2 separate regions of the Homo sapiens genome follow, and region 2 is linked to region 1. The links come from fine-mapping of genetic effects on gene expression. A gene starts in region 1. The other region holds a variant in brackets. All regions are shown on one strand. Distances are from middle to middle.

Region 1 (15,825 bases):
TTTATATCTAAATGTGTTTTAGTTTGTTTTTCCAATCAGAGCGTGAATAGAGTACTCTTCATCAAGAGCCTCGTCTTGTCCCTTAAAGCCAGCCAGCCAGCCAGCCAGCCCACTTTTTTGTGCCAACAGACGTCAGGGTGGCAGGTACTGGGGGGTCCCTGATTCCTGCTGCTTACCTTTCTTGCTGCCAATGGTCCTTAAAATCCAACCATGATGCCCTCTCTGTGTGTGCAAATTTGGGGAACCAAAGGAAATAAAGCTTGTAAACAAGCACTAAATTTTCCCAGCCGCAATTTGTTTTTGCTCCCCAAAGGTACACAGATAGTAAATTTTGTAAGATCAAAACAGTTTTTAGTATTTATCCAGCATAATCATTTGTCCTAAGCAAACATGTAAGGGGCTTCTTTTTGAGACCAATGAATAGGCAGTTAAAGTAAATGATTCCATCTCTCCAGACCCCAACACGCTCAAATTCACTTGAAGAGAAACACTTTTTAATGCTGAATTTGTTTTAAGATGAAATTGCCACCTAAAAACAGACCATTTAATAAAGAGGCATACTGCTAAAGGTTATGAGTCCAGGCTTACACAGGGAAGTCTCAGACATCACACATCAATTGCTGTCTGACCTTAGACAAATTACTGAATCTGTTGATCTGTTCCTCAGTTTTCTCATCTGTTAAGTAGGGATAAGAAGGGCACAATATCTGGCATGCAGTAAGAGCTGAAAAGGACAGCACTTGCAGAGATAAGTCTTTCTCCATTGGCATTCTAGGGAGTGCTTCTCTGGGTGTCCTAAGTCTAAGTTTTTCTTAACCTTGGGAGCGTTGGTTTCTCATTTGTCAACTGCAACAGTCACTGACTGTGATGTTTTGTGCTCTCTCATCCACAAATTCTCATCACTTACTGCTTCATTTCCAACTTTCTGAAAATAATTCTTCCACTCTTCACCTCCTGAATGGTAAAGGTATAAATTCAAGCTATCAACTACTTTTCAAAATTATCATCTCTACAGTGTTTTCTTAATTTAACACACTATGTTCACGAGGTAAAAAGAAGAATTTCAAGACCAAGTAACAAGTCATCTATCATAGCTATATACTTGTTCCTTGCAATAAATAAAAATATTATCATTAGAATTTCTGTTTTAAGTGAGAAAATTGGATAAAACCACAATTGAATTTCAAGGTCACTTATAAGAAAAATTTTTTTTAAAAGGAGAGCTTTTTAAGAGACAGGGTCTCGTTTCATTGCCCAGGCTGGAATGCAGTGGCCTGATCATGGCTCACTGCAGCCTTGAACTCCCAGCCTCAAGCAATCCTCCTGACTCAGCCTCCCAAGTAGCTAGGCCACCGTGCGTGGCTTAAAAAGCTCTTTAAACCCCTAAAAGCTAAGTAACATGAAACATGCTTAACACCAGCACGCAGATCTCAAGGATTAACAGTAGCTACATACAACCATAGGAAGGCAAGATGACACAGAGGTCTGGGTGGCTTCGAGTCTAGCCCTGTGATTATGTGGAAGGTAATTAAACTCACTGAGCCTCAGTTTCCACTTTAAGGAAATGGGATTAATAACATCTACCTCACAGAGATGTTGTGAGCATTAATATGAAGTGACACCTCAAGTTGTGACTACAATACCTGACCCAGAGTAAGAGCTCAAGAAATGAAAACCATCATTATGACCCCCTATGTAGAGAAAGAAGTTTGCTTACCATCAGAGTAAAAATTAGAACAAAATGCCAAGATCCTTTCAAAAGTCCTTTCTCAACCACTCAGAACACGACTGCTTAAGTCTGTGGGCCATCCAGGTCCTTTTGTCTCCTCTTTCCCCTTCATCTACTTGCCTTCTGCCATGTCCCTACGCATTAACTTCCCCTAGGGACTAGGAAGGGGAGAAGGGGAAAGGTTAGAAAATAGAGGTAGTCATTGTTGCAACCTATGCCCAGCTCTAAGAAACTCCAAAAGCAAAGATGCAAAAAGCAATTTAAACTGTTGGCCAAAATTAAATGGGGAGTTGGGGGGGAGTGTGAATAGACGTACAGTTTTCTTTCTTGCACTATTCCCAGGCTCTACTACAACATCAACCACAGAAATGCTCCAAAAATGGTAAACATTGGCTGAGAGGAGAAGGGACAGCTCAGCAAACGCTAAGGCTGACAACTGCAATTCCATCTCTGCCAGGAGACACTTGTTTATTAAAGTCTCTCTCTCAGCCTTGCTGTATTCACACATGGAACAGGAGGACTCACTCCAACTCCATTTTCAGAGCTAAAGTGCAGGGCAATGGAAAAGACTAGAGAAAGCTCTGGAAATGGAGAACCTTAATGAACCAACTGCTGCAACAGTGGTCAGTTCCTGCAAGTTATCACTGATTAAAGGGAAAGCAAGCACCCTCGATCTCACAAGCTTTTTTTTTTTTTTTTTTTGAGACAAAGTCTCACTCTGTTGCCCAGGCTGGAGTGCAGTGGTCTGATCTTGGCTCACCGCAACCTCCCCATCCCGGTTTCAAGCGATTTTCCTGCCTCGGCCTCTCAAGTAGCTAGGACTACAGGTGCCCACCACCATGCCCAGCTAATTTTTGTATTATTAGTAGAGACAGGGTTTCACCACGTTGGCCAGGCTGGTCTCGAACCTCTGACCTCAGGTGATCCGCCTGCCTCAGCCTCCCAAAGTGCTGGGATTACAGGTGTGAGCCGCCGTGCCTAGAGGTCTCACAAGCTTTTATGTGTGAAGAGTTACATCCTGACAATTTGTGAGATCAAACCCACGTTCAGACCATCAGGCAGTGTTGCACACTTGGCCTACAGAGCAAAACATTTCTTTTTTACCCTCTGATGGTCATATAGCACCCACTATCTTCTCCAGAGTGCAGAAGGCTTTATAAAATCTCTCAATTGGCCGGGCGCGGTGGCTCATGTCTATAATCCCAGCACTTTGGGAGGCCAAGGCAGGCAGATCACGAGGTCAGGAGATCGAGACCATCCTGGCTAACACAGTGAAACCCCATCTCTACTAAAAATACAAAAAAAAATTAGCCAGGCATGGTGGCGGGCACCTGTAGTCCTAGCTACTCGGGAGGCTGAGGCAGGAGAATAGCGTTAACACGGGACGCGGAGCTTGCAGTGAGCCAAGATTGGGCCACTGCACTCCAGCCTGGGCGACAGAGCGAGACTCTGTCTCAAAAAAAAAAAAAAAAAAAAACTCTTTCAATCCCAGAGTTCCTGCTATTTAAGATTCTGGATCACTGCACTATTCAGTCCCTGGGAAAAGTGAACTGCTCTACATTTGACCCCTTTATCAAAGTAAAATACTGATACATCCCAAAGCAGTCTCCGACAAAGGTGAATCAAAGTAGATGTGAAATTCTGCATAGCCAGAGGCCAAAATCTGGTTTTCTTTCTCAAGGTTCCAAATTTCTTCCAGTGCATGCATAACCTGTATTGGATGCCTCATCCAGGAAAAACTCTGTGCTAGGTTTCATTTTTACTTGTCTCATCACCTAAACTCAATTTTAAACTTCTTGAGGGCAGCAATTACGTCATCAGTTTCTGTACATCCAACAGTGACTAGAAGAATGCTGGGCTTAAAGGCTGTCGTGGAGCTGAGGCACACATGATGAAATTTTGAAAAGTAGCACTGTACCACAAAAGATCTGTGCTCTATTTTTTAGAAGGAAATAATTTTTTTTAAAGAAGGGGGGAAATGTGCATGAAGATGGTCCCTGCAAGTCTAAAATCCAAAACTTATAAACAATTTAAGTGGTTATAACTACTCAATGGATATTTACATTTTGGTTGCTGTACTTATTACACATCCTTGAGCAATTTACTTCTCTGTGCCTCACTTTCTGTCTCTTTAGAATGGGAACCTGCCTAACAGCCCTTGTGAAGAATAAGTTAGATAATTCATGCAAAGCAGCGGGAACAGTACCTACTGCAGAGTTAAGTGTTCAATTAAATGATGTCTCTCATTATTTCTCAGCTACTCTAAATAAATATAATGACTGTTACCAAGGTAAAAATGTTCACTATAGTGTTACAAATAAAGCGAAATATAAAATTATACATTAACTTTTATTACAATAATGTAAAAATATATTCCATAGTTTTTTTTAAAGAAAACACGTATTTTAAGCACCTATTATTATTGGACATCTTGTTAGGAGTAGGGCTATACATAAGCATTGAGTAAGTCCTAGTTCCTGATCGGAAGGCAGAGAGACAACAACAGAGAATTTCAATTCAAGTCGGGGAATGTGCATGAGATGCTAGAGGAGCAGACACGGAACACTCAGCCCAAGCCAGAGTTCGGGAAGGAACTCCTAGGAGATATGTCATACCTGAGTCAAAGCAGAGGGAACTAAAGAAGGGTACAATTTCCAATACAGCATCAATAATCAATTAGAAGATATAATGGAGGGTCAGGCATGGTGGCATGTAATCTTAGCACTTTGGGAGGCCACAGTGGGAGGATTACCTGAGGCCAGGAGTTCAAGACCAGCCTGGGTAACATAGCCCCCATTTCTACAAAAGAAAAAATTTTAATTTTAAAAAATTAACCAAGCATGGTGTTGCATGCCTGTAGTCCCAGCTACTGGGGAGGCTGAAGCAGGAGGATTGCTTGAGCCCAAGAGTTGAAGGCTGCAGTAAGTTATGATCACACCACTGTACTCCAGCCTGGGTGACAAAGCAAGACCCCATTTCTTTAAAAAAGAAAAAATAAAGGGATATTTGGATGTCTGGCAACATTTCCTCCCTTCCCCGTAGAAGTAACCAGCCATGGTTGAGAGGTGGAGCCCTCTTTTGGTGGGGCGATAGCTCTCAGCTTCATCATAACTCCCACCCACCCCTCTATGCAACAATTTCACCTACCCAGTCACTTTGGGATCTTATTTTTGAACACTGCAGAAAAAATAACAGCATGGGAAAACATGCACGACATTACATAACAGACAAGAGATTAATATCTGTATTCACACATAGAACTTCTCAAATGAATGTGAAGAAAATAAGCCAATTTTTAGGAAACTGGCAAAGACCATTTACAAAAGAAATACAAATGGCCAACCAACATATAAAAAGAATAATCTCTCTTCTAATTGGGAAAAATCACACTAGTGTTTTTGCCCATTAGGTTTGGGGAAAAAAAGATGATAATATTCTATCTTGGCAAGAGTATAGGGAACTGGCAAGCACAAACACTTTTGATGGAAGAGGAAATCAGAACAATTTTTTTGATGGGCAATTTGGCGGGAGCAACCAAAATCTATTTATTTATTTATTTTTAACTGTTTATAGAGATGAGGTCTCACTATGTTGCTCAGGCTGGAGTGCAATGGCTATTCACGGGCCCGATGAGAGTGCACTGCAGCCTTCAGTTCCTGGGCTCAAGTGATCCTCCTGCCTAAGCCTCCCAAGTAGCTGGGACTACAAGCGTGAACCATTGCACCCAGCTTCAACAAAATTTAAAACATGCATACACAGCTGGGCGCGGTGGCTCACAACTTAATCCCAGCACTTTGGGAAGCCTAGGTGGGCGGATCACGAGGTCAGGAGATCGAGACCATGCTGGCTAACAAGGTGAAACCCCTTCTCTACTAAAAATACAAAAAAAAAAAAAATTAGCCAGGCGTGGTGGCGGGCACCTGTAGTCCCAGCTACTCGGGAAACTGAGGCAGGAGAATGGCGTAACCTGGGAGGCGGAGCTTGCAGTGAGCCGAGATCGCGTCACTGTACTCCAGCCTGGGCAACAGAACGAGACTCCGTCCCCAAAAAAAAAAAACAAAAACAAAAAAAAAAAACACATACACTTTGCCCTACCTATCCAGGGATTCCACGAATTTGACATATGAAACTAACTCACATATGGCTACTAAGATACATGCACGCATCTACCAGGATGTTCAATGGCAGTGCTTATTGAAACATCCAATGCAAATGGAAGTGACCTAAATGTCCATAAATAAGGGAAGGGCTAATTACATTATGGTACATCCATAGGCTGGAATGCCACGCAGCCATTAAAAAGCGTGAGGTAAGGCCGGGCGCGGTGGCTCACGCCTGTAATCCCAGCACTTTGGGAGGCTGAGGCGGGCGGATCACGAGGTCAGGAGATCGAGACCATCCTGTCTAACACAGTGAAACCCCGTCTCTACTAAAAATACAAAAAAAAATTAGCCGGGTGTGGTAGCGGGCGCCTGTAGTCCCAGCTCCTCGGGAGGCTGAGGCAGGAGAATGGCGTGAACCCGGGAGGCGGAGCTTGCAGTGAGCCGAGATCCCGCCACTGCACTCCAGCCTGGGCGACAGAGCGAGACTCCGTCTCAAAAAAAATAAAAAAATAAAAAAGCATAAGGTAGATCTACATTTGTTGACACAGAAAAAAAACTCTCAGATATGGTTAAATGGAAATATCAAGTGCCATAATAATTAGTACAACCTAGACAATTTCAGAATTTTTAAAATGTGTAAGGTGATACACCCCCGTGCACATTAATATACATAAACACTTTTCCCCTATTGTTAACCACTATCAATATACTTATACAGCTGATCCTTTAATAACACGGGTTTGAACTGTGAGGGTCCACTTACATTCAGATTTTCTTCTGCCTCTGCCACCCCGAGACTGCAAAACCAACCCTTCCTCTACCTCCTTTTCCTCCTCAGCCTACTCAGCGTCAAGATGATAAGGATGATCCACTTCCGCTTAATTTTCTCTTCCTTAGTTTATTAATAACATTTTCTTTTCTATAGCATACTTTATTGTTAGAATAAAGTATATACTACATATACAAAATGTATTAATTGATTATGTTATTGGTAAGGCATCTGGTAAACAGTAGGCTATTCAGTAGTTAAGTTTTTGGGAGAGTCAAAAGTTATATGGGGATTTTTGACTGTGCAGGGTTTGGTGTCCCTGGCCCCCACATTGTTTAAGGGTTAACTGTATTTATACAAGTATACATATAATTTACAGTATAAATGTTTATACATTTATAATATCTAAAGGTAACAAAAGTCTGTTGATACACTGACACTTTTTTTCTGTACCCTGAGGGCAGACATTTACTCTTTTTACTCCACAGTTTTGTGTGTAATTTGCAGTTTTTCTAAGAATCATGCATTCATGCATTACTTGAATGCTTTTTTTTTTTTTAAGGGGATGAAAAGGGCCTTCCTAGAAAAAAAGACAAAGACTACCAAGGATGTATGAAGGGAAGAAAGAAGTGTGAGGAACTGTGGCACTAAGGATGGCCTGGTGAGCACCAAATGATGTGTAGCTAGAGGAATGCAAGAGGAGTGAGAGAACTCAGGGCCGCCCACCCCTAATCAGACCACCACCCATGGCCACACAATGTTCCTTTGTTGTTTCAATTACAGTGCATAGAATTTGTTTTAAAATAACACTTCTGATACCAAATTTTAAATATGGTATCATCTCAATGGTGTAAATAATGCATTAAAAATGGGCTGGCAGGAAATATGCCAACCTGGTTACTGCCTCTAGGAAGAGCGGGTAGGAATAATCATCTTTTTGCTTCTTCATTCTTTTCCATTTTCCAGTTTTCTGTAACTATGTATTATCAGGGGAAAAAGCATACTTTTCAAAATGAATTTCATATTATAGGAGAAATAAAGCCAGTTATTTCCCCCAAATAATCCCTGGCCGAGGAGGACCCTCGAGTCAAATAAACAGATATATAAAGGATTCTCTGTTACTGTTAAGACTTTCTTTGCCCAGCTGTGAGCTCCCCAACTCCTTGCTCCACACTTCAGGACCAGGACCCTGTGAGGATTGAGATGGAAACACGTGGATGGGAAGAAAGGGTATTTTCATCCTTTCTTGAGTTACATTGATTCTTTTCCCTGCTTCTGAATGACGCTGAGGCCTCCTAGGCGCTACCATCTTTATTTCCTACCATCTCTTCCTGTATATGCTCTTTGCTCTTGTTTTGATATTCCTTCCCTGGTTCCTTTCCCTTCTCCCCTCTCATCCCACTCCTCAAGCTCCTCCTCTTCCTTTCTTCAAGTCACCCTTGTTGGAGGCAGGAGAGATTTGCAGGATGGGAGGGGGAGAAGGTTGCGTAAATGAAAATATTCCAATTCTGTAGTTGAACACTTCCAGGCTCAAGCTGTGGGTCATGACGATGGCTGTCCAGGGAAGGAAGCAAAAGAGAGGATAAAAAATAAGAAAAGCAACCCCTATTGCAAACGTTAATACATTTCCAGTGATTATCTCTTGATCATGATGGGTATCACAGTGTGGAAGACTCTGTTGTCACAGTCACTGACATCAGAAAAAAATCCCCCAAAGTCAGTGTTACAGGTTACTGTCCAGTGTATCATTATCATCAGGATCAAATCCTAAAAACTAAGACAAATTTTTTAAAAATTAAGGGGCAATTTTCTTTTAAAGTATTCTTGTAGGAAACCACAACATCTTTTTTCACAAGAACAGAGGCAAAGAAAGCAGTTTCACCTAAAGGCACAATACCTGCCAAAAAACCACTCCACTTCTTGACCTCACTGGGGACGTCCTCTTCGCAATTTCTTAGTTCATTGGGAATTTTGCCAGCGCCAAGGCCAACAACATTCCTGAAGATGTCATTTCCACCACAGCACACCCTCCCCTATTTACTGGCTCAGTAAACACTGGGGTAATGAACTAATGAACAAGTGAATGAATGAGAAGGCAGCAGCACTCTGCCGGGGTGCTTACCTCTTCTGGTTCATGGAGGCCACCTGGAGCCACTCGTTGGTGCTGGGGTTGTAGGAATGCGCAGCGGAGATCTCCTGGCTAGTGATCCTGTACCCGCCCACTATGAAGAGGTAGTTGTCCAGGATGGCAGACCCATAGCCCCTGACATTGACCAGGTCGGGAGGAAGGTTGTTGGCCAGCGGGAACCAACGCTCAGTCATCTCCTCGTACCTGAGCATGGACGGGGGCTCCCCCTGGTAGGGGTGAGGGGCCAGGGGTCCCCCCAGGAAGTCCCCGAGGGCCACGAGGACAGGAGTCCCAGTCATCCGGGCCTCCCTCAGCCTCTGCTTCAGGCTGACATCCCCTGGAGCTTGGGGAGGAGACCCCAGGAGGTGGAACTGGGGCTTGCACAGCACCTCGTGGAAGTGGACGACCATGAAGCGCAGGCAGGCCTCCTGCAGGTCGGGCAGCCCGTACACCTGCGCCAGGCGGTACATCTCCAGGCAGTTATTGAGCCGCACCTGGGACAGCAGCAGCTGCAGCAGGGACGTGACCTGCAGGAAGGAGGCCGCCTCCACCAGCTCGGACAGCAGGCTCACCTCATCCATCTCCTCGTCCTCGTCCACCCCGCCGCCCTTTTCCCCGCGCGGGCCCAGGAGCCAGCCTTCGCGGGCCCCGCCGGCGTTGATGAAGTCCAGCACCAGCCGCAGGCCCGGCGCGCTGAGGCCGCGCAGCTGCTGCACCTCCGGGCCGCCGGCCTCCTGGCTCAGGGCCTCGCGCATGCCGGAGCGGTAGAGGGCGCGGAAGTAGTCGCTCTGCTCGATGAGCTTCCTCTTGCTCACCGGGTAGCAGCGGTCCTCCAGGCGGATCTGCACCATCTCCTCGGCCGACATGGCTGGGGGCCCCGGGGCGGCAGCGCTCACCGCCAGATCTGCGCGCCGGCCTCCCAGCCCCTACGCGCGCGCCGGTTCCGGGCGGGGCGCCGAGGGATGGCGGCCCGGGAGGAGCGGCGAGGTGAGGGCCGCCCGCGCTCGCCCGGCCTCTCCGGCGGCCCCTCCTCCCGGGGCCCGCTCCCGCGAGGCGGCGGCCCTGCCCTTCTCCTTTCCCTCAGCGCCAAAAAAGGGCCGGCGGAGCGCGGCGGGCGTCCTCGCGCGGGCTCTCCCGGGCGGCGCCAGGCGGGAAGGGAATTCCAGCTCCCAGCCAGCAGCCTCCTCCCCCGCCGCCCTTCTCACTTCCGCCCGCGGGACCCCAGCCGCCGGCCTGACCTGCCGGCTGGATCCGGCTCTCGGGGAGGCCCGGGAAGCTGCGGGCCCGGGCGCCTCGGCTGCGGACGCGCAGCTGCGGGAGGCGGAGGGCGCGCGTCCCCGCAGCCTCTCCGCCCGCCCGGGGCGCGCCGGCTCCGCCGCTTGTTGGGGGCTGCAGTGATGCTCCGGGGTACCCCAGGGAGAAGAAATTCGTTTTCTCTCCCACGCTGCTTTACACGGGCTAAAGAAAAAGAAATGAGCGTGGGAGGAAAGGGAAGGATGGAGTCTCTGGTCCAGGGAGACAAAAAGGCATCAAATATGGGGTCGTCCTTCTGGCCCAGTCCGGCATCGAGTGTCAGTGGGCTGAGGCACGCAGGCGATCTATGGACAGTTGGTGGCAATGTTGGTGGCACGTAGAGCTGATTCTCTGGTAGCGTGGTCGCGTAGGAGCCATCTTACAGGAGGTCCAGGCAGATGGCAGCAGGTTCTCAGAGGAATCGGGTTGGGAGGCAGGGGAGCTTGCATTTGCCACTGGGGCCCCTTATTCTCCCTAAGTTATTAAAAGAAAGATGAAAGCGCAGCCCGACTAAATAAAGTTACATCACGTGGCTTCTGGTTTTAAACCATGTTTTCTATGAGCCATTGCTTTTCTACTTCAGTCCAGTCCATTACGGAATGTTATCCTGGCGCAAAAGATCTGACAAAATTGGCTCATAAATGTCTGCAAGAAGTAGCTTTTCTTGTCACCCCCTTTCTCCACCTACCCTGCCCCCATCATCTGAGGACTATTAAGAGAGACCACACGTGCGGTTTGGCTGAGCGCGGTGGCTCACGCCTGTAATCCCATGACTTTGGGAAGCCCAGGTGGGCAGATCACGAGGTCAGGAGTTCGAGAGCACCATGGCCAACATGGTGAAACCCCGTCTCTACTAAAAATACAAAAATTAGCCGGGCGTGGTGGCACGCGCCTGTGATCCCAGCTACTCGGGAGGCTGAGGCAGGAGAATTGCTGGAACCCGGGAGGCGGAGGTTGCAGTGAGCCGAGATCGCGCCACTGCACTCCAGCCTGGGCGACAGAGCGAGACGCCGTCTCGGAAAAGAGAGACCACTTGTTTCCTATGTTCTCTCACTGAACATTGCAATTAGAAGGCCCACCCCAAATAATAATAGGAAGGACTTTTTGTCTTGCTAATGAATTCATCCCAGGAAGGGGGTGGGGGGAGAAATATATTGTTTGGATTATCTTTGGGTAGGAGAAGGGAGAAGGATTGGGAGGAAGCAGAGGGTGTGTTCACTCTTATCTTACAAAACAAAAACAGAAAACCTTGAAAACTTACCCCAAACCAAGATTTGAGAACCACCTATGATAAACAGTCCTTAACTTGGAGAGAATATGTGTTTGGTTTTTTTTTTTATTATTACAAGCTTCAGCTTTCTTCTTGAATGACAGATTGTTAAATAATATCTTCTTCATAAGTACATTTCCCCTATTTAAAGAAGATACATCCTACCATGCTAACATTTTACCTTAGGAAGGAGAAAGGGTTAAAAACCAGAGAACTAAAAGAAAGTCAAAGGTGAAACATGAGATCCTTTCAACATAGTTTGGTTACATTTGTGGTTCTTACTACGAAATTTATCTGCTTCACAGAGAGGTGTTGTTGTCATCTTTTACTTTGTTTATTATTATTACTTGGGAAAGGAGGTTTATCTTTTTATTTTTTAGAAAAAAAAATGCATTTTTTTTTTTTTTTGAGACAGAGTTTCCCTCTTGTTGCCCAGGCTGGAGTGCAATGCTGCGATCTCAGCTTTCTGCAACCTCCACCTCCCGGGTTCAAGTGATTCTCCTGCCTCAGCCTCCGGAGTAGCTGGGATTCCAGGCATGAGCCACCACACCCGGCTAATTTTGTATTTTTAGTAGAGACGGGGTTTCACCATGTTGGTCAGGCTGGTCTGGAACTCCCGACCTCACGTGATCCACCCACCTCGGCCTCCCAAAGTGCTGGGATTACAGGCATGAGCCTCCATGCCCAGCAAAAAAAAATGCATTTTTTTTTTCCATAGAGATAGGGTCTTGCTACCTTGCCCAAGACAGACCTCAAACTCCTGGCCCCAAGGGATCCTGCCACCCCAAGTGATCCTGCTGCCTTGGTCTCTCAAAGCACTACTGTGCCTGGCCTATTTTCTTTATAATAATGCTAGGAATAAGGAACTAAAAAATAAAAGACATAGAAAATGTTCTAGTAGATTCTGGCCTCCCTGGAAAAAAATGAAGGAAATAAAAATGGATCTATGACTTACTCAGTTGTTTTCTTGGATTCTATAAAAAACATTCATCTCTTCACCTTGTTTCACCTGGCCTTTAAATCGTTACTGATAAAACTCCATTTTCACATCAACCCTTCACACTTCCATTCTCTATGAGGGTGCAGTGAGACACGATAAGCTTTGGAGCAGGAGGTGGAGTGAGTGATCAAGCATTTAGCAGCTTCTTTGGGATGGTAGAGTGTAACATCCAGTATTAAGCATCAGGCTGGGGAATTTTGCTGGGATGCGTCCCCTGTATCAAAGAGACTTGGACCTACGATTTTTCTATGCCTCAACCGGCAACAATGCCAGATTCAGTGGGTCAGCCACAAAGAACAGGCTCTCAGTCTCTCCTCTGTCTCTTGAATCTTTCACCAATGGATGCTTTTGTTTCCCAGCCGTCATAGATATGCCTCAGACTGGTATTTTCTTGCCTTTTTAAAACAGACCAAAAAAATCATGCTCAAAGAATGATGTGCATTAGAAAGGCAATTCAAGCACAGTAACATTATCAGGGTAAGATGAGGTTGGACAGGGAGTCTGGGGTATTAGTCTCACAATACTGGGCATTGATCTTGTGAGTTTTTTTGGCTCCCAATATGATAATAACATTATTTAGGATTGGGAGCATCTTAAATGATCAAATCATTTTAATAAATTATGCAGTAAGTTTTCTGTTAAGCTAGAAATGCAAAGTCAGAGCAATATAAACTCCTTTATTTTAAAAAGACCTAAAATTATTCCTAGTCTTCCTGAAAATATTGCTTTATATAACTGGAGGTATAATTTTATAGATCTGTTATTGACTGATCATTGAATAATAAAAACCAGTTTTGTGGTACTATCTGTAAAACAGTTTTACAGAAGCGTAATGGTCAAATAGAGTTAGGTAATTTTTATTTTTTATTTTTTATTTTTTTAGACAGGGTCTCACTCTGCCATTCAGGCTGGAGTGTGGTGGCACTATTATGGCTCAATGAAGCCTCCCAGGTTCAAGTGCTCCTCCCAGAGGCCTCCCAGGTTCAAGTGCTCCTCCCACCTCAGCCTCCCAAGTAGCTGAGAATACAGGCCTGCGCCACTATGCCCGGTTAATTCTTACATTTTCTGTGGGGACGGGGTTTCACCATGTTGCCCAGGCTGGTCTTGAACTCCTGGGCGCAAGTGATGCTCCCTCCTCAGCCTCCCAGAGTGCTGGGATTACAGGTATGAGCCACCACACCCAGCTGAAGTAGGTCATTTTTTAAAGAACTTATGGAAAATATCCCTTTTGAAATAGCAAGTAGAAAAAAAAATCTTAGTACAAGATGTTTATCACAGTATTGCTTTTAATAACAAAAAATTGGAAAACAACATAATGTATAATAATAGTAGCTAATATGTATTGAGTGTTTAGCATGTGCCAGGCACTGTTGTAAGTGCTTTACATGGATTACAGTACTGTTTTTATATTTTACAGCTGAGGAAGCTGAAGTGCAGAGTAAATTTTGGTATGGTAGAATGAAATACCAAGGAGCCATTAGAAGTTTTTGTGTAGATCTTTCTTTAGGATCACTGAAAAATATACTTTTTTTTTTTTTTTTTTTTGAGACAGTCTCGCTCTTGTTGCCCAGGCTGGAGTGCAGTGGTGTGATCTCAGCTCACTACAACCTCAGCCTCCTGGGTTCAAGCCATTCTCCTGTCTCAGCCTCCCAAGTAGCTGGGATTACAGGTGTCTGCCACCACGCCTGGCTAATTTTTGTATTTTTAGTAGAAACGGGTTTTCACCATGTTGGCCAGGCTGGTCTTCAACTCCCAACTTCAGGTAATCCGCCCACCTCAGCCTCCCAAAGTGCTGGGATTACAGGCGTGAGCCACCACGCCTGGCTGAAAAATATACTTTTACATAAAGTTTAAAAAAAAAAAACAGATTTTGGAACAGCATATATGATTCCCTTTATGTAAACCTATATACTGTAAAATAAAATTTATAGGAGGCCAGTGCAGTGACCGATTCCTGTAATCCCAGCACTTTGGGAGGCCAGGGCGGGAGGATTGCACAAGCCAGGAGTTTGAGGCCAGCCTGGGCAACATAGTGAGACCTTGTCTCTACAAAAAAATTTAAAAATAAATAAAATGTATAGACCATTGGTTTGTTTAGTATTTATTTGAGACAGGGTCTTGCTCTGTTGCCTAAGTTGGAGTGCAGTGGCACAACCACAGTTCACTGCAGCCTCAACCTCATGGGCCCCACCTCAACCGGCTAATTTTTTAAAATTTTGTAGAGACAGGCTCTCCCTATGTTTTCCAGGCTGATATCAAAACTCCTGGGCTCAAAGCAATTCTCCCTCTTCGACCTTAGAAAGTGTTGGGATTATAGGTGTGAGCCACCGCACCAGCCAAGACCATTGGTTTGAACTGAGCTCCTGCACTAGCCCCAACAGATGAAACCAAAATGGAGTTACTCATGGTGATGTTCCATGATGCCACCAAGCCAGAACCAAGATCTGTATCTGATCTTTGAAAAAATCAGGAGAGAGATAATAACCAAATCCCCAGACAGGCCGCTTTTAACCAGTATGATAAGGCAGTGCCCTCTGCTTTAACCTTTACAAGGAAAGTAATCTTATTTATTTATTTATTTATTTATTTATTTATTTATTTATTTATTTTGAGACGGAATCTCGCTCTGTCGCCCAGGCTGGAGTGCAGTGGCGCGATCTCAGCTCACTGCAAGCTCCGCCTCCCAGGTTCACTCCATTCTCCTGCCTCAGCCTCCCGAGTAGCTGGGACTACAGGCACCTGCCACCACACCCAGCTAATTTTTTTGTATTTTTAGTAGACACGGGGTTTCACCATGTTAGCCAGCATGGTCTCGATCTCCTGACCTCGTGATCTGCCCGCCTCAGCCTCCCAAAGTGCTGGGATTACAGGCGTGAGCCACCGTGCCCAGCCCCTGCTTTTTATTTTCTATTTCTGCTTTCCTCAGCTCTTTTCCATCAACAAAGCCACCTCCTCTGCTCAGTTTATTGGATTTTATAGAATGAGGTGTTGCCCTATTCTGGAATCACAAATAAAAGCCAATTAAGGTCTTTAAACTAAATTTGTTGTAATTTTGTATTTTGACGTTCATATGTTTTTTTAAATAACAATATCCAGAAAGATGTTTATTAAGATGGTAAGTGCTTGAATAGTTTCTCTTTTTGTATTTTTCTATATGATTTGAATTATTAAAGTGAACATATGTTGATTTAATAGAAGCAAAAACATTTTTAAAGAAAAAACATTTAAGTTTTTCAGGTACCATTTTTTAAAAAATAATTTTTATTAATTTTATCAGCAAATGAAATGGAAACTCTCAAAAAATAAATAAATAATTAATTAAAGGTGAAATATTGACTGCTTTCCAAATGTCTTGAATTTACTAAAGCTATGCTATTACTTCACTACTATTTAAAAATTATTTCTCTTTGTTTTTTCAGTTCCTCAATATTCCTAAAACAACTTTATTTCTGGGGTTTTTTTTTTGTTTTGTTTTTTGGTTTTTTTGAGACAGAGCCTTGCTGTGTCTCCCAGGCTGGGGTGCAGTGGTGCAA
Region 2 (15,825 bases), 27 kb before region 1:
ATACTTAAAAATTTAACAATATGTTCGTGAGAGCCAGGGCTCCTTTCTAATTCTACTGCTGCCTCCTTACTTCAGTCACTTTTTATTTCCTGAACTATTTAGAAGCTGCCCACTTCTGGCCCCATTACATCTATGAATAAAATACTTTATTTGTTGTTTATAAAACAAATGCCAAGAACCTCATCTAGTGTGCAAAGCCTCGCACAGTAGGGTCTAATTTGCCTTTTTCATCTCATCTCCTCTACACTCCCCACCCACCACCTCCTCCTCCACACTCACATACATACACACACACGACTCTTATGCCCCAGCCCCAGAGAGACACTTAGCATTCTCTCAGCAATGCACAGGGCAGTTCAGTTCAAAAGACTTTTAACAAATACCTACTAATACAGTTTGGATATTTGCCCCACCCAAATCTCATGTTGAAATCTAATCCCCAAAATTGGAGGTGGGGCCTGGTGGGAGGTGACTGGATCATGGAGGTGGATTTCTCATAGATAATTTAGCACCGCTCCTCTGATGCTGTCCTTGCAATGGTAAGTTCTCACCAGATCTGGTTGTTTAAAAGTGTGCGGCACCTCCCCCACCTTTATGTTCCTGCTTTTGCCATGTGATGTGCCAGCTCCCACTTCACCTTCCACCATGACTGGAAACTCCCAGAGGCCTCCCCAGAAGCAGATGCCGCTATGCTTCCTGTATAGCCTGCAGGAACATGAGCCAATGAAACCTCCTTTCTTAGCCAGGTATGGTGGCTCACACCTGTAACCCTAGCAATCTGGGAGGCCAAGGGAAGCAGATTGCTTGAGCTCAGGAGTTCAAGACCAGCCTGGGAAACATGGCAAAACCTCATCTCTACAAAAAATATTTACAAAATAATTAGCCAGGCTTGGTGGCTCACACCTGTGGTCCCAGCTACTCAGGAGGCTGAGGTAGGAGGATCACTTGAGCATGGGCAGAGGTTGCAGTGAGCCAAGATCGTGCCACTGCACTCCAACCTGGGCGACAGCCCTGTCTCCAAAAAGAAGAAAAAAACAACAACCTCTTTTTTTTATAAATTACGTGGCCTCAGGTATTTCTTTATAGCAATGCAACAACAGCCTAATATACCTACCATGTGCCAAATATTGTGCTAGGCTAAATAAGACATGGTCCCTGCCCTTCAGGAACATAGAATCCCATGTACTTTCATTCTCTGTGGTTATGTTTACACTATTACTTCAGTCAGAAACTCCCATCTCTGCCTTTATTCATTCAAAAAGCATTTACTGAGTGCCTACGAGGTGCCAGACTTTGTGCTAGGTTCTGGAAAGACAAAAATGAAAAAGACACAGTGTCTACCTCTGCCTACTAAGCCAGACAGTAGTGGGTGATGTGCAGGTGTAGGGAGGGAACTCCAGCTCTCTTGTCCTGTTGGGATCAAGGAAGACTTTGCTGAGAAAATAGTGCTGTAATTGAAGATGAGTACAGAATTTGTTGCTGAAGGAAGACAAAGGTCAGATCATAAAGGGCTCTGTAAATGTCATGTTTCCTAGTTGATACTCCTTATTACAGAATCTACCTTGATTAAACAAGGGAAAAACTGATTATGAAGATACAGATGCCTCTGATGCAATCTGGTGAAAAACTGAACAGCCAGGTCCCAGGAAGAGCTGGAACTTAGCTCCAGGACCTCAGTTACACAAGTTTACAAGCTTTTACTTCAAAGCTCTGAATTAACGTGACTGAGCCCCCAAGAGCCTGTTCTCGTGTCTCTCAGTTTAAATGCAAAAGAGAATCTGATTGGCCCAGCTTTGGTAAAGAATGCATCCTGCTTCAATCAGCTACAGCCAGGGCAGGATCACATGCAAAAAATGATCACTCAGAGAATAGAGATCCCAGGCTCAGCAGATCACCTCAAAATTGTCTCCTCTTGTCAGAAATATAATTCCCCAAGCCTGGGGACAGAAAAATGACAGCCAATTTTATTCATTAGGAATGCTTTTGACTGCAAATGATACAAACCTTGTTATAATGGCTTAAGCACAGAAAAATTAATTATTCTCATACGCCAGGAAATCCAGCTGTAGGGATTACAAGTGTTCATTCAGCAGAACTCCAGTCCTAACACTGATATCTCTGTGATTCTTTTGACTTCTCATAATCATGTGCTATTGTAGTTTCAGTTATGACTTACACATTCAAAGCTTTAAAAAGAAGAAAGAAAGGTACGAACTGTGTTTCTTCCCTTTGATCAGGAGAGCCCAAAAGATTTCCTAGAAACCTCCCAGGATACTTCTGCTTAGTTATCATTGCCACACCTAGGTCACATGACCACACCTCACAAGGGGGATTGGGGAAACAGGAAATGAAGTCTCATAGTTGGCTGAGATTAATCATGAACATGAGAAAAATAATTGAGGTTTGTGAGTGTCCAGCAGCAGACAACTGGATAAAATAAACACAGTATATATACACAATGGAATCCTATTTAGTCATGAAAAAGGAGATCCTGTCTTCCTTCTCTATGCGGATGAGCCTGGAGGACATCGTGTCAAGTGAAACAAGTCAGGCACAGAAAGATACCACCCATTCTCATTCCTATATGGAAGCTAAAAAAGTTGATCCCATAAAAATAGAGAGTAGAATTGTGGTTACCGGAGGCTGGAAAGGGTAAGAGGGAAAGGAGAATAAAGAGAGGTTGGTTAAAGGATAGAAAATGACAGCTGGATGGGAGGAATAAGTTCTGGTATTTTATGCACTGAAGGATGACTATAGTTAACAATAACTTGTTGTATGTTTTCAAATAACTAGAAGAAAGGATTTTGAATGTCTCCAACACAAAGAAATGAGAAATGTTTAAGGGGATGAATATGCTGATTACCCTGATTTGATCATTACACATTGTATACATGCATTGAAATATCACTCTGTATCCCATAAATATGTAATAATATAATTATTATGTGTCAATTAAAAATAATTTTATATATATACATAAATTACAGTCTGTGTGGCAGACAGACTCTAGGTGACTCCCAATGATGGTATTTATACCCTTGTATAATTTATTTCCATTGAATGTGAGTGGGACCTGTGATTTTCTTCTAGCCAATAGAAATGACAAAAGTGATGGGGCATCACTTCTGATTACGTTGCATTATATAAGATTCTGTCTGGCTAAGATTCATGCTAGAGACTCTCTCCATAGCTGACTATGTTGGGAGCCCCATGTGGCAAGGGGCCGAGGATGGCCTCTCACAGCTAAGGCAACAGGAAGCTGGGATTTTCAGTCCTATGACCATAAGGAAATAAATTCTGCCGACAACCTGCCTGACCTTAGAAGTAGGTTCTTCCTCAGTCAGGCCTCTAGATAAGAATGTAGCCCAGGGGCCAGGCACAGTGGCTCATGCCTGTAATCCCAGCACTTTGGGAGGCTGAGGCAGGTTGATCACTTGAGGTTAGGAGTTCGAGACCAGCCTGGCCAATATGGTGAGACCCCATCTTTACTAAAAATACAAAAATTAGCCAGGCGTGGTGGCACGCACCTATAATCCCAGCTACTCGGGAGGCTGAGGCAGGAGAATTGCTTGAATCCGAGAGCAGAGGTTGCAGTGAGCCGAGATTGCGCCACTGCACTTCAGACTGGGTGACAGAGCAAGACTCCGTCTCAAAAAAAAAAAAAAGTTCCAAGAACTTGAGCATGGCCACAGATGCCTGCATGGAGGTCAGGCTCACCAAACTCTGTTTCCTTCCAATTTAACGTTTGAGGGTTTTACTGCATTGATGAGTCAAAGACTGCAAGGTGTATACTCTAATTTCCGTTTTTCCTTTTTTCCTTAGTAATAGATCCTGTATCTGTTTTCATCCGCAGTGTAACAATTTATCACAAACTTAGCACTTTAATACAATACCTATTAGTTAATGCACAGTTCTGTAGGCCAGAAGTCTGGCATGGCATGACTGAGTTCTCTGCTTGGAGCATCTCAAGGCTAAAATCAAGATGTTGGCCATCCTGAGTTCTTGTCTGCAGACTTCAGAGAAAAATCCACTTTTACATTTAGCGTTTTTGTCATTGTCAAGATTTGGTTCCCTGTGGTTGTTAAACTGAGACTCTCGTTTCCTTGCTGGCTGTCGGTGGGGTCATTCTCAGCTCCTGGAGGTACCCACACTCCTTGCCACATGGCCCCTCCGCCTTCAAGCCAGCAATGGCACGTCCAATCATTCTCATGCTCCTAATCTCTGACTTCCTCCATCTCTGACTCTAGATCTAGATTTAAGGGGCTTTTTTTTGAAGGTCAAGCCTACCTAGATAATCTCCGTATCTTAAGATCAACTGATCTGATATATAACATAATCACAGGAGTGACATTTTGTCATATTCACAAGTTCTGCCTCCTACTCAAGAGAAGGAGATTATACAAAGTAAAGATCACCGGGGATATTGTAGAGCTCTGTCTACCACAGACCCCTAGCTTTTAGCTTGACATGTGGATCCCCTAATAAAGATGGCATTTCCCAGCCTCCCTTATAGCTAAGCAAAGCCGTGTAGCTAAGTATTTGCCACAGAAATGCTGTATACCAGCTTCCAAGAGATCTGAAAATACCGCTGGTGTTCAATATTTGTCTCCTTATATTTCGATTCCTTCTTGCCATCTGGGATGTGTCATTTAATGGCTGGAACTCTAGCATCAACTCTAAACTGTGAAATGACAGTAAGAATGACAGTCACATATTAGGATGGTGGGGCAGTAGAATAGAAAGAGCTTGGGGTTCCTAAACCCCATTAGAGAGCTAGACCCAGTGGTGGGCTGGTAAGTGGTAAACAACCAGCTCTCTGGAGGGCGAAGCCCTGATTTGCAGCATGTGCCAATGTCAGTGACGTAAAATCCTCCACAATGGCCAATTTCTTTTTTCCTTTTTTTATTCCTTCTTTCTTTTTTTTTTTTTTTGTTTTTTTTGTTTTTTTTTTTTAGAGATGAAGTCTCACTATATTTCCCAGGCTGGTCTCAAACTCCTGGGCTCAAACGATCCTCCTGCTTTGGCCTCCCAAAGTGCTGGGATTACAAGCATGAGCCACTGCACCCAGCCACACCAATTTCAAGTTACCAGTGTGACATCATTGAACATAGGACTGAGAGGAGGTGCAAATAACCCATTCTCTCAAGTTGGAATAAGCCAGCTGCAGCCACCACTGGCTGTCCTGGCTCTGCACTGCTTATCCTCCAAGCTGCTTTGTCCTCAGAGAAAAATTAACTTCTATCTTATATAACATACTGTTATTTTAGGGTATCTGGCACATGCAGACAAACCTGATTCTATGGTAATGTTCTCCAGTCTTCTCTTTCAGCATTGAAATTTTCTTCACTGGGGGTTTTCTGGGTGCTGAATGCATTTGGATCTAGGCAGGACAGTGGGTATGTGGTGCCAGGTTTTACTCTACACAGCACTCACAGCAGCTGCCGTTTCATTTCAGCCTTCTGCTAGTAAGATTGACCCTGCTCCTTATACAGTAGAGCCCGAATAACTTTACAAACTTCAGAAGGAAATAGAAGGGCAATTGTGCCAGAAAGACAATAACCACCATGCTTTACAGAGACCTTTGAGCAGGCACCATGATGGAAAATATTTTGAAGCGATGCAACAAATCCAGGAGTATGAGACATTAAAACCCCACTTCATTTTACAAAGCTGCCTCTGAAGATCGGTGAAGCTTGAGACCCACAACAGAGCAGAAAAGACTTCAGAACAAATAAACATCAGCACTGCTAGAAAACACCTACTCACCTCTCTGAAAACTGAGCTGGGAAAACAAACAGTCTTTCTTTACATTTTAGTGGCTCCGAATCACCCTGCATGAATCTGCTGCAGTGGAGGGTCTGGCCGTTTTCCCACCAGCCCGGAGGCACAGAGAGCCAGAATACAGCATTCCCTCTCCATCACAGGCATTCACACCAGCAGTGCTGGCTACACTGTGACAGGACAGCTTGGTGGCCACACCCAAATCCAGAATCCAACAATGGCACCAACAATCCTAGGAAATACACAACCTTCCATTTAACTGCTTCAGATCTCTTCCTTCCAAGCATCTCTTCCAAAGAAAATGCGATCTGGAAGTCCTCCCGTACTTCTCTGTGTATGAGTTTGTTTTGTTGTTGTTGTTTGTTTGTTTGTTTGAGATGGAGTTTTGCTCCTGTCGCCCAGGCTGGAGTGCAGTGGTGCGATCTCAGCTCACTGCAACCTCTGCCTCCCAGGTTCAAGCGACTCTCCTGCCTCAGCCTTCTGAGTAGCTGGGATTATAGGAGCCCACCACCACGCCTGGCTAGTTTTTGTATTTTTAGTAGAGACAGAGTTTCACCACGTTGGCCGGGCTGGTCTCAAACTCCTAACCTCAGGTGATCCATCTACCTCGGCCTCCCAAAATGCTGGGATTACAGGTGTGTGCCACCACGTCCGGCTGAGTTGCTGGTTTGTTTTTTTTTTAATAATAGCAATGACTACTTGTGACCCGCCTGCACTCCCTCACCAAAGCCCCTTCTGCAGACATGCCAGATAATGAGGAAGGGGAGCAAGTCACTAAATAACTGGATTTCTTTCAGGGGCACCTTCTGTGAGGTTATGACCTTGATGACCTAGGAGTAGTGATCACAAGAAATATATGCAGCTATCACATATGGAACATCTAGCGCATGTGAGATCCGGTGGGAAGTGTTTACAGACATTTTCTCTGGTAATCCTCACAAGAAACCAATAAGGAAGCTGGCATTATTACCAGCATACCACAAATGAAGAAACTGAGGTCTGTAGGGTTAAATGCAGGTCACTAGCTAGTGAGAATAAAACTGGTATTTTCATCCAGGCCGTTTGACTCCAGAACTCTCAGAAAGGGATATCTGGGGATAGCATTCTGGATCATTCCAGAACAATGCTAAGCATAGGACAAGGGCGTGCATGTCTAGGATGGACTGAGTGCAGGGCCATATCCTCAAGGCACACAGGTGAAGCACTGTAATACTTTTGGAGGTCCATAAAAATGTTTTCATTGTAATTTATTTTAAAACCAGAAGAAACAGCTGGGTGTAGGGGCTCATACCTGTAATCCCAGCACCATTTTGGGAGGCCAAGGTGGGAGGATTGCTTGAGTCTAGGAGTTTGAGAACAGCCTGGGCGACACAGTGAGAGCACCACCATCTCTACAAAAAATCAAAAGTTAGCCAGGTGTGTTGGCACAGGCCTGAAGTCCCAGCTATTTGGGAGGCTGAGGCGGGAGGATAGCTTGAGTTGAGGAGGTCCAGGCTGCAGTGAGCCATGATCATGTCATTACACTCCAGCCTGGGCAACAGAGCGAGACCCTGTCTCTAAAAATATAAAAAAGAAGAAAAACATGAGTATAACAATAATGAATGGGTAATAATGAGTCCAGCCTGGATTATACTGGTCATTATACAGAGTCGTAAAATATGATTTTTAATCTTGTTTTACCAAGGAAGGGACCCATGAAGGCAAAAATGCCGAGGGCCCACAAAAGTCATGAGATGGCTGGAATCCGGGGTAATGTAGATGGCATTGCTGTGGGCAATAACTAGATGGGAAAAAATGTAGAATGTTCTCTCACAATTAGGCTGCCTTGGTTAAAATAAAACGTGTTCCAAATCAATGCCTCAGAAGGATTATGGAGTTGCCACAGTTTGGGCTGTGAAATAGTCCGTGAAGATAATAATAAACAGTGCTAATGAATGTTCCCCATCTGTTCTTTCTCCCCTTAATGGCTATCAGATAAGAGAACGGAATAAATCAGCAGCCTTTGTACGCTGTCTAATATGCCATAATGTGAGCCCTGGCCTTGGGTCTGTTTGTGTTATTTTCTTAAAATAGTCACAGAGAAGGCCCCTGGAGAGTTCCTTTTTCCCATGACCTGCCCAGACCAGAAGGCTTAGGATGACTCTGGTCCTCAGAAACAAAAGCCAAAGAAAAAAAAAAGCCAAGAAACCAGGCATGGTGGCTCACGCCTGTAATAACAACATTTTGGGAGGCCGAGTTGGGGGGAATCACTTGAGGCCAGGCAGCCTGGCCAACAAGGTGAAACGCCATCTCTACTAAAGATACAAAAATTAGCAGGGCGTGGTGGCATGCACCTGTAGTCCCAGCTACTCAGGAGGCTGAGGCAGGAAAATCGCTTGAACCTGGGAGGCAGAGGCTTCAGTGAGCCAAGAAGGTGCCACTACATGGGCAACAGAGTCTTTCTCTGTCTCAAAGAAGAAAAAAGAAACCTAAGACAAAGGAATCAGGTGATTCCCGGGATTAGAACAACACTGTCTTGACTCTACCACTGAACACTTGGCTTTGCTCTGAAGAATCCCCCTCCCTCAATGGGTACGGTCTCGGTGAGACTTCCCAAGGGGCCCCATCCCATCCCCAGCCTAGGGCTGGACATGTGACCCCAGCAGGACAATCAGGGTGCTCACTCCTTCCATTTCCATTCAGGGCTCATGGCACGAGACCTAAAGTGGGTTGGAGTTTCTGTCCCATTGGTGGAGCCCCGAAGAGATTGTCCTTGAGTTCCCAACTGCCAGAGCTGCCATCGTTTCTGTTTCTTTCATGTCCTATTAAAGATTGAGTTAAATCCTATCTTTTTAGTAACTTTTCTTTCCTTCCCTTCCTTCCCTCTTTCCTTCCTTCCTTCTTTCCTTCCTTCCTTCTTTCCTTCCTTCCTTCCTTTCCTTCTTTCTTTCTTTTTTCTTTCTTTCTTTCTTTCTTTCTTTCCTTCTTTCTTTCCTTCTTTCTTTCTTTCTTTCTTTCTTTCTTTCTTTCTTTCTTTCTTTCTTTCTTTCTTTCATCAGCTAGAGTCAGTGTCTGTTGGTTTTTTAAAAAATCCTGACTGGTGGGTACCTTCCAGGTACTGGAAGGTGACAGAAATTAGCCTCCATGGGACACTGAACACTGACAGCACTGAATTCATAGACATTATTTAACATCTGTACCTGCTAACTCATGCACTCAGCTAAGAAAGGTACCGTGTTTTTTCATTAAAAGTTGAAATCAAGGTAAGGCTAACGGTCTACGGCCATACCACCCTGAACATGCCCGATCTCATCAAACTATGGCTAACGGTATAGGATTTACCTATCCTGTTCTTTCAGACTTGTAATTATTAAAATGACATTATTAGGCATTAAAATGACACGCATCATGGGGATGTGGGGAGGTGGGGAAGGTAGGCAACTCAAAGCAAACTTCATTTCAGGCAGTGCGCCCCTTCTCAATGAATGGCATGTGAAGCAAACAGCACATTTTAAAAGGTTTTTGAGATAAGATTTAGTACCTGTTTTGAGCTGAACGGTGCCCCCTACCTCCTTAAAAAAAAAAATCAGCGTATCTTTTTTTTTTTTTTAAGGAGGCAGGGGGCAGAGGTTGCAGTGAGTTGAGATCAGGCTACTGCACTTCTGCCTGGGAGACAAAGCAAGACTCTGTCTCAAATAAATAAACAAAACCAACAGACAAACATATACATACACACCAGATTGTATAAGAAAAGTCACCACCAGCCACAGACCACTTGTTATTACAGTGCCTCTTTCTAGATCTCTTGCCTCTGACTTCTTGTCTTCCTACCCAGCAGCACCTCGAAATCCACCAGGGCTGAAAGTAGCCTGAGCAGCGGAATCTCTGCCCCTAGACTTCCTCAGGAAACCCTTCACAGGCCCACATGGGGGTCAGACCACACTTTCTGACAACAACATCGCCTACCTTTTCTACATCTCTTTCCGCTGGCATTCAGATTCTGAATAACTGTGTATTTGTGCCATTCAATTCAGATTTTAGAAAAAAAAAAAAACAGTTCTACGAGTGACAATAATATCACTCAAGCCCTAATATTGATTCTAGTGATGAGAAAATAATGAAGC[G/A]ACGGGGCTCCATTCCCATTTGCCTGCGGGGCCCCCTGAACTCCTAGGCGTTTGCCTCACTACTGTCTGTGGGCAAACTTCCTTTCCAGCCACAGCCAGAATTCGAAACTTCTCCCATCTGCGTGACGCATTATGTACGTTGGTAGAAGAGAAAAGTACACTGTTTTCCTAATAACCGTTGTTCCTCAAGAAAACACTTTTTTCCTATAAGGAAATTTTAGGGCTACATAAACCAGAAACCTATATATTTTCAGAAAACCCAAGGAGGCTTCAAAACCTTTCCAATTTAACAAATACTTCCAGAATCTGCTGTGTTACATGGCTCTGGTGTATGTCCTGACATAGAGTGATAAAAAGATTAATGAAACACTCTATCATCAAGGAAACTACAGTCTAGAAGAGGAATAAGACAAGCACATAAGAACTGTTCTATGAGACAAATATGTGTGCCCTGAGAGAGAGATAGCTGAAGCTGTATCCAGGAACAAGTATTTTCAGAAGGCTTATCTTCCATAACACTGTAAACCAACCAGCTAGCTCACTTACCAAGACTAACAGCTTCCCCATCAAGGCTAGCTTAGGGGATGTGAGGGTGATCTGCCTGTGACAACTCTCACCCCACTGATCGCCAGGGTTGATTCGACTGATCTGGCTGGCTAGATGGGTGACCCCTTCCTCCCTCACTGCTCCATGTGCGTCCCTCCCGAAACTCCACGCTCAGTCGAAGAGGACAACCATCCCCAATAGAGGAGGACCAGTCTTGGGTCAAGGGTGTATGAGTAGCTGCGCTCCCCTGCTGGAACCTCCAAACAAGCTCCCAAGATTAGCTTTGGGACTCTCACTGCATTGTGCCCACAAAGTCCTATGCCCAAAGTTCTTGTATCAGAAACTCTGCCCAGTGTTGAGACCTACTTCAAAATCACCCAGCCCAGGCCCCAAAACCTGACATTCCCCTTCTGAGGCACTACTAATTCTTTTTCAAGGTGGTGTCCTCCCTGACCACAGTAAGCATAACAAACTTGGCTTTGCTTGACCAACAGGTTATCTAGCTGTTCCTTTTGCAAGTCAAGAGTCAACACCCCTTTCTTCTAGTAAGCAGACCCCTATTATCTGAGATGACTTCATTCCACGTGGTTGAACTGGAGATTCTCCTCCATGCCCCTGGCCACAGTGGTTACCTCAGAAATGGACACATTACCTGGGCTGGTTCAAACAAGTCTTAATAAAGCGTTTGGTACTTAGGATGGGATGTTGCAAATATCTAAAGCTGAAATATGGAGCCAGCTAAAGCAAGGGAAGGGATGGGGTAGATAGAATCTTCTCATCCCTGACCTTATGTGGAAAGCAAACAACTAATTATGCTGCTGTCTCTTGGGCCTCAGACCACTCAAGTTGGCTCCTTTAGGAGAAGTGAAAGACTTGTACCAGGATCTGGAATTTGTTAGCTACGTCTTAATGGCTTTGCTAAGATATTTTAGGAAAGGCATAAGCTTCCAGCCAAGCTGGCCCATTTGAAGGTATAAAGGAAACAGCTTTGGTAATAATAACAACAGCTCACATTCATTGTGTGTTATGTGCCAGATGCCATTCTGAACACATCACATGAATTTTCTCATACAATTTTTTGCAACAGTTTCACAGGGTGGATACTATTGTTATCCCTACTTTACAGATAAAGAAACTGAGGCCTGGGGAGACAAAGTAGCCTAACCAAAGCTACAGCTAGAAAGTAGCAGAATTGCCAGGCGCAGTGGCTCACGCCTGTAATCCCAGCACTTTGGGAGGCCAAGGCGGGTGGATCACGAGGTCAGGAGTTTCAGACTAGCCAGTTCGAGATCAGCCTGGCCAACATGGTGAAACCCCATCTCTACTAAAAATACAAAAATTAGATGGGCGTGGTGGCACACGCCTGTAATCCTAGCTACTTGGAAGGCTGAGGCAGGAGAATCACTTGAACCCAGGAGGCGGAGGTTGCAGTGAACTGAGATCGCACCACTGCACCCCAGCCTGGGCAACAGAGCAAGACTCCGTCTCGGGAAAAAAAAAGAAAGAAAAAAGAAAGACAGTAGCAGAATTAGGAAGCAAAGTCTTGCTCTAGAGTCCATGCCTTTCACCCTTTTGCCTACAGGCAGCAGACTGCAGAGGATCAAACATGTGCCTGGCAGAACTATAGGAGCCAGGTTCTCTGCCTTAGTTAAAGGGGCATGAACAGCCAGAAATATAGTAAGATCGGGCTCCCGGAGGAGGCAAACTAATAGAGTGGGGGCCCTGGCGCAGTGGTTCACATCTGTAAATCGCAGCACTTTGGGAGGCCGAGGTGGGAGAATCGTTTTCTGAGACCAACCTAAGCAACATAGCGGGACCGCATCTCTATAAAAATTTTTTTTAAAAAAATTTTTAATTAGCTGGGTGTGGTGGCACATGCCTGTGGTCCCAGCTACTCAGGAGGCTGAGGTGGGAAGATCACTTGAGCCCAGGTGGCCGAGGATGCAGTGAGCTGAGATCGTGCCACTGCACTCCAGCCTGGGTGACAGAGCAAGACCCTGTCTCCAAAAATAGAGAAGGAGGAGGAGGAAAAGGAGGAGAAGGAGAAAAAGAGGAAGAAGAAGAAGAGGAAATAGGGTGGGTATTTTATTCCCCAAACACCTCCTGCCACACAGAGGTAATCATTTCTACTAATGCTGCAGTCCCTGGGATGTAGTCTGGGAACGGCAGACCCCTATGGTTTCAGATTATCCCAAAGCTAAGAGAGAGATTGACGCCATCAAACTGAAGGTGGAGGCATGGGCAGGAAGCCTGTGGCTAAGAGACAGACATCATAAAGATGGGCTCTAAGTTAAAGAAACTGGGCTCCTCTAAATCTGGGCCTTTATCCTATGGAGTTGCCGGAGATCAGATTTACCAGCATCTGAGTTTTTATTTATTTATTTTTTTAATAGAGACAGGGTCTCATTGTATTGCCCAGGCTGTCCTTGAACTCCTGGGCTCAAGCAATCCTTCCACCTCAGCCTCCCAAAGTGCTGGGATTATAGGTGTGAGCCACCGTGCCCAGCCTCAAATGGGTTTTTAAAGTTTTATTGCCAAGGAAATGTTGATGGCCTACAAACAGGAGCCTAGGATCCCTGGCCTCAACAGAAGTGTTCAGGTGCCCCTCCACACACCTCCTGTAACCATGCCCACAGGAAGAGGCTGCCACTTCACCCCCAGGCAGGTCAGCCATGGAACGCGCTGCTGCAAAGCAGGACCAGAGGCTCCCAGACTGGCTCACTCGGAAACCCACTCCTCCACTAGCAAGAGAAAGGATACCCTTTAAACCAGTGACCACTGTATGTAGTTTTCCCTTCTCCTCTTTCTCAAGTGGCAATTTGTAACCTACAGTGCCTCAGTTTCCTCAACTGTAAAGCGGAGGATATTTGTATTTACCACATGGGATTCATGTGAGGATTAAATAATTTAAATAAAAAATGCTTAGAATAATTCCTGGGAAAAAAAAAAGTGCTCAGTTAGATTTGGGTGTCGCTCTGCTAGGTCAGCCATCCTCCTTCTCCTCCATCAGTGTGTCCTGAGTGTGTAGAAAATGGTTGTCCATTTATTTCATTTTTCTTGAGTTGGGGTCTTGCACTGTCTGCCCAGGCTGGAGTGCAGTGGTGCAATCAGATCTCACTGCAGCCCCAAACTCCTGGGCCCAAGCAATCCTCCTGCCTCAGCCTCCCAAGTAGCTGGGACTAGAGGCATGCACCACTGTATCGGCTAATTTCTTTTATTTCTATTTTTTGTAGAGACAGGATTTCACTGTTGCCCAGGCTGGTCTCAAATTCCTGGCCCCAAGCAATCCTCCCACCTCAGGCTCCCAAGTCACTTCACCCATTTCCTCCCAGTCCTGGCACAGCCCTGCATACGTAACTGATACATAGAACTTAGATAACAAAAAGTGACTGAAAACTACTTTATTTGAAGACATTTTCTTCTATAGTTCTAAACACAAAAGGAATGCTGTTATAGTGGGTATTTCATAGGCATTCTTGTATTCAAATGAATCACATAATGTTTACACTTTTAAGCTAGACTTGAAATTGAAGACTTAATACAACCTTTTAACAAAGAAAGTATCAGTCATATCAAAACATAACTATTCATTCTACAGATTATCACTTTCCCTAAAATGACTACTAGATATGAAAACATTGCAGGGACAGCTCAAGTGCCCCATTCTTAAGGGTTTTTTTTAATAGGAAAAATGACAACGTAAATCACATTTTCCTTTTCTTTACTAGTAATGAACTATGGCAATCCATTTGAGAAAGCACCAGCCAACCGTACAAGTCATTTCAGCACCCTTTGCTCTTCAAAACTGACCATCTTTTATATTTAATGCTTCCTGTATGAATAAAAATGGTTATGTCAAGTACAGACGTCAGCAACGTGTCAGTTGGTGTGAATTTATGATGTGTTCCTAAGTCAACAGAGAAAATAAAAAAAATCTCTCATGTGAATAAAATCTAAGGATGAAAAACTATCCTTTGATAATTATCACAAGGCAAAATCAACCACCTTTTCATCAGTACTAGTGTGGAATGGAAATTTCTTTATTAATACTTTTTATGGGAATGTTTTAAAGGCATAGGTATAAATGCACATGCAATCAGCTTGCCCCTCTTAGATACTAACTTCCCCAGCTTCACTCCTCCTTTTCACTGGAACAAGCTGCTGAATCCCTAACTCCAAAGTCTGCAGTGCTTGGTGAGCATTTTTAAATAAAGATTATATGTGATTTTCACTTTTTCACAAAAATGAAGTACAGAGAAGACTGAAAAGCAGTGAGAAAAAAATCATAGAGCAAAAAACTAAAACACAAGATGTGATGTTCAAATTTAAAAGAAAAACAAAACTGGTTCGTGATGATTGTTAGTAAATCACAAAAACAAAGGACGGACAGGGCCAAGACCGAAGGGACCACCAGACCACCGAGCCCCAATGTGCCAGACAAAAGTGGGCATCTTTGAGAAGGACGCCCTGGTGAAGACAATTACAGTGAACCTCTTTATAAGGCCGTAAGCTCTTCAAGGTCATGGGCCGTGACTTATTTATGTCTGTATTCTGTTCTTAGCATTGTCTTGCACATGACAGACACTCAGTATTTCTGGTAACCACAGAACTGGAGCTCAATCAGCTCACTGCTTTCAAAGTCATTTTGGTTGGTGTCTACCCACTTAATTCTTTCACTCCTCTGTCTAAGGCAGGGATGGCAAATAGCCTTCATTTCACTCTGATGGACTGGGAATAGATGTCTGGAAGCACCAATCTGACATGGATTCTAAGACCAAATCCTGGCACAGAGGACAGGAATGCTGCACTCATTCATAATGCCTCCTTAAAAGAGCGGTGGCACAGGTGTTATATATTCCCCATTCCTGGTCTAGGAAAAAGGCATCCAACACCTACTTATATTCCTTTTACATTGCTATGCTGCCTCTTGAGTGATCTGCATTAAGCCACTGTTCGTTAAATGCTGGTTGATCAGGAAGACCAAGGCCTTTCCTCTCAATTTACGTCTTTGGCCAAACAGGTAGGGTCAGAACTTCACCTGGAAATCTGAAAACACATCATCCACAATGCTCAATAGGCAACAGTCCATTGAAAGAGAACAGGTATTTACTTGATTACTCCCTTTGTAGAGAAAGAATTTTGCCCATCTCAATGGTGTGTAGCTTTCATTGATATCTAAGGCATTTGGAATTACTTAGGATCTTGGTGTTAAAAAAAAAAAAATGGCAGGGTTAAATTCTCTTTGGTTCTCATTCTAATCTTAAGACTTCTGTTTGTTTCTTCCTGGTACCCATAACCTTCTCAGCACTTCGTCGTTGTGACTTAACCAATACTGTTGAAATAATCAACTCTTTCACACATTCATCAGAAAACCTTTTAAAGGATGCTAAGGGGA

The links.
Region 2: its variant is fine-mapped to the expression of KLHL42 in whole blood (INTERVAL, PIP 0.90).

The regions. Positions count from the first base shown.
Region 1 is chr12:27,774,101-27,789,925 of GRCh38, reverse strand. It overlaps KLHL42 (kelch like family member 42), which reads right to left and starts at 9,693. Exons shown (of 3, transcript NM_020782.2): 1 at 8,724-9,693. The coding sequence starts at 9,595. MANSC4 (MANSC domain containing 4) reads left to right here and starts at 9,690. Exons shown (of 4, transcript NM_001146221.5): 1 at 9,690-9,716. RefSeq lists an enhancer at 9,177-9,676 and silencers at 9,542-9,851, 9,872-10,091, 12,524-12,724.
Region 2 is chr12:27,801,032-27,816,856 of GRCh38, reverse strand. It overlaps KLHL42 (kelch like family member 42), which reads right to left. Exons shown (of 3, transcript NM_020782.2): 3 at 13,817-15,825. LOC105369709 (a long non-coding RNA gene) reads left to right here. Exons shown (of 3, transcript XR_931459.3): 3 at 5,456-5,542. It also overlaps the pseudogene RN7SKP15. Among named protein-coding and RNA genes, the nearest start is that of MANSC4, 29 kb to the right of the region's middle. RefSeq lists enhancers at 9,233-9,402, 11,773-11,942. The variant G/A (reference allele first, on the strand shown) is at 9,885.